Homo sapiens: one gene and its partner. The protein of the gene in region 1 purifies or fractionates together with the protein of each later gene. This does not show direct contact. Each region holds a gene or a part of one and is shown on either strand. Other genes may lie near its edges.

Region 1 (3,972 bases):
GACTGCTGGGAATACCCCTCCCCCCTTTGTGGACTATGTTTCCCGTCCCCCACCCATTTTATGGCCACAAAGGAGATCTGGCTTTGTGCTCAGCCCTGAGTCACCTGCTGGAGACTGCTACCTACTAAAATCAAGTGGGCTGGCTTCTGTGCTTAGTGCATATATCTAAATATCTGCAAAATTTAGACTCTGGCCTGATTTTAAAATGAAACGGAGTTCTCCAGTTAAACCAGATTTTCAGGGAAGTTTGTATCTGCTTTTGTTTTTATCCGGTTAACAGTATAAGTGAAAATACATATGTAGTGCAAAGGTTTATGAGAAATAAACCACCGTGCTTGTGGAGGTAGACAGGTAATTTTTAAGAGGTTTAACATGATCTAATTAGGGATGACACTTTGATCCCATTCTATTACTTTTGCTAATGAACAGTGCTGCTTTTAGATCAACACGAGTGTCCAAAGGTAATAGTAAAACTGATTCCCATATTTCTTAGTTATAAGCATAATTTGACTGCCAATGACAAGAGTAATTTATTTAAAATAACAAGACCATTTATTCACTATATTTTTGATAGGTTAAGTTTATCTTGTCTTAGATAGAAATATCTATTGTCTCTATTTATTCACAGTGAAAAATATTGATATAGAATTATCAAGAACTGTCCCACCAGGAAAGATGTAAGTCATCAGCTCAGCAGGACTTTCAGGATAAAAAAAAAAACAAAGCAAAACAAAAAACAAAAACACTCACACACAAAAACACCTCCTGTGTAACTTTACAGTGTTTACTCTGTGTTTAAGCACTTGGAATCCTTCCTTTTCTTCCCCATAAAGCCCAAGAGACTGCACAAAGGAAGTAAGGCAAGCAAAGCTGGAGAGGGCACGGTGGAATCACAGGTATGCGTGAGACAACGCATGCCAAAAAAAAAGGAAGAGGAATTCCAGAAATGACTCTGTGAAGTGAGAAGCAATAAAGAGGGGCAGAAATGACACCAAAGGAAGGAGCTGAAAGTAAGTGGGTAAAGCAGGAACAATACCTGCCCCTAACTCCTATATCCCTCCAGAAAAGTCTTACAACACCCTGTGAAGCCAAACGGCAAAAAAAAAAAAAAAAAATTAACTTCTATAGGTGTTTTTAAAAGATGCACATGAAAAACTCCCAAGGTGCTAACTGTAGAACTAAACACAGCACAAGCAGGAGGGCTCAACAATTTTTACTAAGTATGAAAGTATTCAACTTTAACTGCAGTACATGGTAGGTATTGATATACACAGAGTATGTGCTCTAGTACCTAAGAATGCACTAAAGTCCAATAACATTTAGGGACTGCGTTTGGCTTGTCAAATGAAACTCTTTTTCAGCATGTGGAATAGGCTTCATGCATATGGAAATTCTCAGATGCAGCATTTCTCTGGTACTATATGAAACTTTTAAGCTCGCAACCCTATTCCAAGGTCCTTTTTAAGTAACCTGCCACACCTCTGAAGGAAAAACTTAGGGAAACTCTATATTGTAAAGAAACAACTACACTATATATGCAAAATGTGTACCCCGCTCACCCAGAAAATATAGTTGAAAGGCTTTGCTGGGGGTAGATTGGAACAAGTGTACACTTGGGGTTCTCTGAGTTGCTCAAGTTTGGCAAACATCAGCAAAGTTCTAGAGAGCTTTTGAAATTTCAGATCTACCCATCTTTGTATTCAAGATCATTAATTCTGGGTGAGAGCAAAATTTCCAGCCAAAGAATAGTCACAACGTGCCTCACCCAGAAACTAATTCTTCAGACACATACCTGCCTGCTGAAGTCACCCTTTCGCAAATATAGAACACACCATATATGTACATAATTAAATGTATATGTAAGAAGATTCATGCCCAAAAGGAAGGCTTTATGGAACCTTTTGCAAAGTACCAGTTTAAACACTGTGAGGCTTTAGAGGAGTTGGAGAACTGAAAACTCTTCTTGTTGAATATTTCATAAATATAATTTATTTAACTTGAACCTTCATCTGAAAAGCTTCCCTTTCCCCCTTAAGAAATTTTTACCAAGAAGAGTAAGCTAAAGCTATTGCATATTTTTGGCAGAGAAAAGTAGATTAACTTTTGGTATATTTAGTGACCACCATGAGCACATCTGAACGCAGCAGCAGCTAACATGTGAGAGGGCATGATCTGCCCAATTATTACAAGATTGCATTTCCTCATGCCATCTCTAATCAGAGGAAAAGGTTTAAATTAGCAGCAATCTCAAGAATGTGAATCAAGTCTGGGCAGAACTTTTGTATCTGACTCAGTGTAAGACTGTTTAGTTCTTGTTTCAAGTAGTCTGCACAACAAATACCATGCCTGCAAATATGCAACAAACACTCCCAGGAAGAATATGTTTGTTTCTTCCATGGATTCAGGTAATAGGAACTATGAACAGATCTTATAAAATTTTGTGGGCATTTATGTGTTGCTATTAAAATGGAATAAAGATTTTCTATTTCTGGGGGCAATGTAGATACAAAATTAGAAAGTCAGACAGGTAGATATGTTTGGCCTTTAAATAAAGTTTAGCTTTAAACTCCTAATCTTATTGAGGTACTTAAAAATATGTAAGAATCAAAATATTTTACTGACAGTGGAACCATGGTTAAGTCAAGAGCTTTAGGGAAAAGAGTATATGTATATGAATATGCCTAAAAGTAAATAGGGATAATGGATTCAAGTTTTTGTTTCATATGATATCTAAGAATCAGATTTCTTGGAGTAGAATCCCATGAGTGAATTCATCTTTCCACAAACTATGTCATCAGGCTCATTTTTCAAAACCAATGTGCACAACACCTGGTCAAACTTCTGCGTCAACTACATTCCGTGTCAATAAAATGTTTGCTTTGCCAAGGGAGACTCTGAGAAAGTGACCAATATGTAGCAACTGAGAAGTCATTTAAAGGACATCAGAAAATGACTGAGCCACGACTAATTCATTTGGCAGAGCCCGCCAGGCACCATGAGCTAACTGGAGAAAGTATTGGTTCTTGGTGTCATATTTACATGCAAAAGAACTGGATTAATGAGGAAACATCTGGTTATTTCGGGTGTTATCAGAATGACCAATTTGGATGCTTCATTGAAATGTGCAACTTAGCAAGAAACCAGATTGGAAAAAAAACAGCACTAAATGCGGCTAAAAAAAAAAAATCTACAGACAGATGTAGACTTAGAAAGAGCATTCATACTGCCCCCTCCCCTTTTTAGGAGGTTCCTTGGTTTAAATGGAAATTACTGCATGGTGGACAAATCTCCAAATGCAGTTTTATGTACTGCTTATTGGAAACCACCATACAAACTATCTGTTTTACCTTAACCCAGGTCTTTTACATAAGAGTTTCAGTGTGAAAACTCGTTAAGAATTAAACCTAGTTTTGAAACCCTAAGCTCCAATGGATCATTACTACCTGATGAAATGCTTGGTTTCCTGCAATTTCACAGTTGATATTCAAATCCCAAGCATCCATGCTTCTCTGGCTCCTTCATAAATTCTTAACCTCTTCCTTTCTCCAAGAACGTTAATTTAAGTTATAATTCTCAGCTTCCAGAATCTTGTTTTATCTGAGAGCCACTAAATGTAAGCGAGTTTCCACGTGGAAGAAACGTTAAAAACTTCTTAGAACTTAGTCAACTTCTAGAAAGGAAGGGAATTGTGGTGGGCCTCAATGACCATTAAGTCATGAGTTAGGGAGCCTGGGCTGCCCTTGTGGCCTTCAAGAACTCTTTGGATCTTGTTGCTCCTTGAAAAATCCAGGTTTAGAACCTCCGGGCTCACCATCCTATAAACAGGTATTACAGCACTAGACAGGAGGAAGTCTTTCTATGTCCTCTGTTTGTCCTGTGGGTATTCAAAGAAGGTTGTCAGGGAAGAAGGATGTCTTTACCCTGTTCAAATCTCAGTCTACTGGCATCTCCTCTCACCTAAACACCTGACAC
Region 2 (3,740 bases), on another chromosome or scaffold:
ATATGTACATACATACACACACATACATACAGGAACACACATACAGTATATTCTCTATTTGATGAAAATGATCTGTTTGGTGATCTTGTTATACTTAAAATGACTCAGTGGAATACTGTTTCAGAACCAAACCGATTAGTTAGACAAGCATTCCTTATTGCATTAGGAAGAGACAAGAGGAAGGGAAAATAGCTAAGAAGCGGTTAATGTTAATCTAGGTGAGAGGTGGTGAGAATCTGGGTGAAACAATATTGAATAAGGAGAAATTAATACATTTCAAAATAAATGGGGGAAGGTTTTTTTACATTAAGATGAAATAGACCCCTGGTTCTCCACCCTGGCTGCACATTACAATTGCAAGGGAGATTTTTTGTTTGTTTTTTCAACCCTGCCTGGATCCCACCCTAGACCAATTAAATCAGAATCTCAGGGGCCAAGGAACTTAAGGAAAAAAAATCTTCCCAGGTAATTCTAATATGCACTCAGGGCTGAGAAACCCTAAAATTGTTTATTTTTTAAGCACTCAAGAAATATTTGTTCTTTGAGTGAATAAGAACATTGATAAAAGTTTAGTTATTAACCTTAAAGCCACTTGTCAAGAAAGTCAAAACCAAAACTAGGAACTAAATACTCAAAAATTGTTTCAAATTGTTTGATAAATTTACGTGAAGAAAATGATGCCCCCTAAACATGTAGCAGCAAAATCTTTTCTCTGCTAACAGGCTTCCTATGAGGGAAAATGTATTTTAGGCAGCTGTTTGCAGAGTTTATCTTTGGTGTCTTTTTACCTCTCTCTGCATTTCTAGTGTCTGTTCTTCACTTGCCTCCTCCCTTTGTCCCCATCACACTTTTCTCCTTTCTCTTTCTCTCTTCAACCTCACTCCTCTTACTTTATTGGGATAGAGCTCAGGTAAATGATTATGGCAGCCTCTCTAGGAGATTAACATTTAAAAGGGGGAGTTTGCTAATTTACTTGAATCTCCAATTGGTGATTGGAGATTCATGACCTTTTTGAGTAGATCTCCCTTCCAGATACTCCTTGATTAAAATTTTCACCCACATAAGGACATAAAACAGTGATCAGAAAGTTGGTAACCCATTTCAGTAAAGTAGCTGACTCTTGCTGTAATGTCTTCTCCGAGATGGTCTGTAGATAGATTTGACAAGATGAAGGGAAATTGCATAGAACTTTTTGGTCCATCTGGATACTATGATAATTTGTTGACTTGAAAGTGAATTTAATTGTTACCCAAACAAATCCTGAAACCTTGCATAGTTGACTCTGTCACCAGTGCTACAAATAAGTGGATATGTTTCAGCGTACTTGCTGCTGCTCCCTCTGCTTCTTTATACCTGTTTATGTACATGAGCAGTAGGTCTGTGAAACAGATTTAGGAATTCTTACATCAGATTCTGCCGTGTCCTGGATAATCACGTGTTTTCCTGTAAACCAGGAGTCAACTCTAGTATTTCCTACATGTGCTGGTTCACCTTTTCAACTGTAGGGCATGGTGCATTGTATCAGGTTGTAAAATGGAGCCAGATAAACACAGCATTTGATTTTGTGAGGTGAAGGTCCTCTCAGTGCATTTAGTGGAATGAGCTCATGATTGTGATTTTGTGGCCTTATTCAAATATCTGCCTTGCTTCATTTAATAAATGTCTTCCTGAAAAATCGAATGTGAAGCACATTTTTGACAGTTGACTCATATTTTAATTGCTATAGATTGAATCTGAATTACTGAACCTTGTACTGATTTATTCAGTGATAAGTTCTACAGCATACTTATCCCTTAATTTCTTTCATTTAAAATAAAATGTTATCTTTAATTGAAGGGTACATTCATCATTAAGATAATACCATTTATACAGCTCTTTATACATTTTTAAGTACTTTCATATATATTATCCTATTGTATCCTAATAATAACCCTGTGAGCTTGGCAGAGTACATAGTAATTGCTCGTTGTGGTTGAGAGACAGGTTAAGTGATTTGTCCAAAGTTAAATGGTGAGTCTGGCAGAGTGTGTGGGTCAGAGCCTAGGTTTTTCAACTCCAGTGCTATCCTAATGTTATTTCCAGTGTAACACATTCTCTCTTTATAAAAAAGCAGTTATTAAACACCATGCCAATAAATAGGTTATTTATTCTGAAAATTCAATGCTTATTTAACTTCGTAGGTTATATACTTTTTGTTTGTGGTATGGTGTGTTTTGTTTTGTGTGTATTTGCATAGCTATCATGCCTCTCTTATGGTTTTAGAATAGATTCATTAAGCAAGCATTTATTGAACTCCTACTTTGGAAACATGATTATGGCTAATAAAAAGAGACATGGTTTTTGTACTTAAAGGATTTATACAATAGTCAAATGTATACAGTAATATAACCATTAGAAAAGAATTTCACTATAATATATAATAGTATTCAAAATAATATATTTTAATATACTGTACACATAAGAGATCTGGAACTGTGGCATAAGGCTTAATTTTAGAGGGGATTAATTTAGTTTGAGAAAGCTTCCTGAAAAGTTAGGTTAGGTATTTGTTGCATGACAGGTATAAGAACAGAAGTGGTTGATTGGGATGTTTTAAAATTGGGGTTAGTGGAATACTTTTGCTTAAGGTTTAAATTTAATATTTCAATTTAGATTATTTGTGATATAAATTCTGAAGCATTTATTTGGCATGAAGGTAGACAAGATCCAGAACCTCACTGAGAACATAAGAAGTAATGCTAGGGACACTTACTACAAATAAAGATAATTGAAGACTTACAAAATTGATTTGCTGGGAGGTGCCATTTGTTTAAGTTCCTAGGCACACAGTGAAACTTTGCAAAAGAGGCATCTTGTTCTCCCAGCCCAGCCTAGCAGCCCACTCTGTGAGATGCCTTAACTGCATGATACACACCTCCCCATTCTGCAGAGGCTAGTGATCATCATGACCTAGAAAGGGAAATATTTTAGTTTTCTTTTTTTCTCTACACTTTGAGTGTATTTGGGTGCTTCTTAAAACATTGTAATACTCTTATAATCAGTTATCTGGAAAGTTTCAGAAAGGGTTGTCTGCTTCTCATTTACAGAAAAAAAAATACCTTACACGCCAGGGAACCATTTAATGTAATTAAAGAAAACTGTATAAGCCAATTTAATAACAATGTAAGTTTATGTTTACTCTCACTTTCAGCTAGTGCACTCAATCTGCTAAAGGTCAAACTGTAATGTTTAATCTTTACATTTCTCTTGTTTCATGTAAATAGATAGCATTCCATTAACAGAATACCTGTCAATGGACTGTAATGGATAATTCAACAGTAGATATTTTCTAATGTATTTTTTATATCAAATTCTTTGAGGAAAAGTTTTTTCCAAATAGGAAAGTAAGTTCTTTCCTTTTCAGGAACACTTGATTCTGTGTAGTCTTTTCTAATTTGTGACAGAGAATGTTGTCACTTTATTTTTAGATTAATTACTTGTCTCAGTAGAATATTAGAGATTCAAGGTGACAAGAGACAGGTATAAGATAACTGTGACATAAACTTTTCTTTGAACCATATGGAGATGAACTGATTCTAGAACATTTGTGAATTTGGATTTCACTCAGAAATGGCTTTTTGTTAATGATTATGTTCCTAAGAGAATCTAGTATGTATAGTCTAGAGTTTTTCACTTCTTAAAAAAATAATTGCAATACGTAAATCCTTAGTATTTTGAGCTACTTGGTTGGGGATGTCTAT

What was found.
Region 2: the proteins of RND3 (region 1) and LRCH2 purify together in Homo sapiens (affinity purification with mass spectrometry, with the first as the bait; one large-scale study listed by BioGRID). This does not show direct contact.

The regions. Positions count from the first base shown.
Region 1 is NC_000002.12:150,477,483-150,481,454, forward strand, and holds part of RND3 (rho-related GTP-binding protein RhoE precursor), read right to left. Parts: intron 1-3,972. UniProt on the Homo sapiens protein: Binds GTP but lacks intrinsic GTPase activity and is resistant to Rho-specific GTPase-activating proteins.
Region 2 is NC_000023.11:115,227,597-115,231,336, reverse strand, and holds part of LRCH2 (leucine-rich repeat and calponin homology domain-containing protein 2), read left to right. Parts: intron 1-3,740. UniProt on the Homo sapiens protein: May play a role in the organization of the cytoskeleton.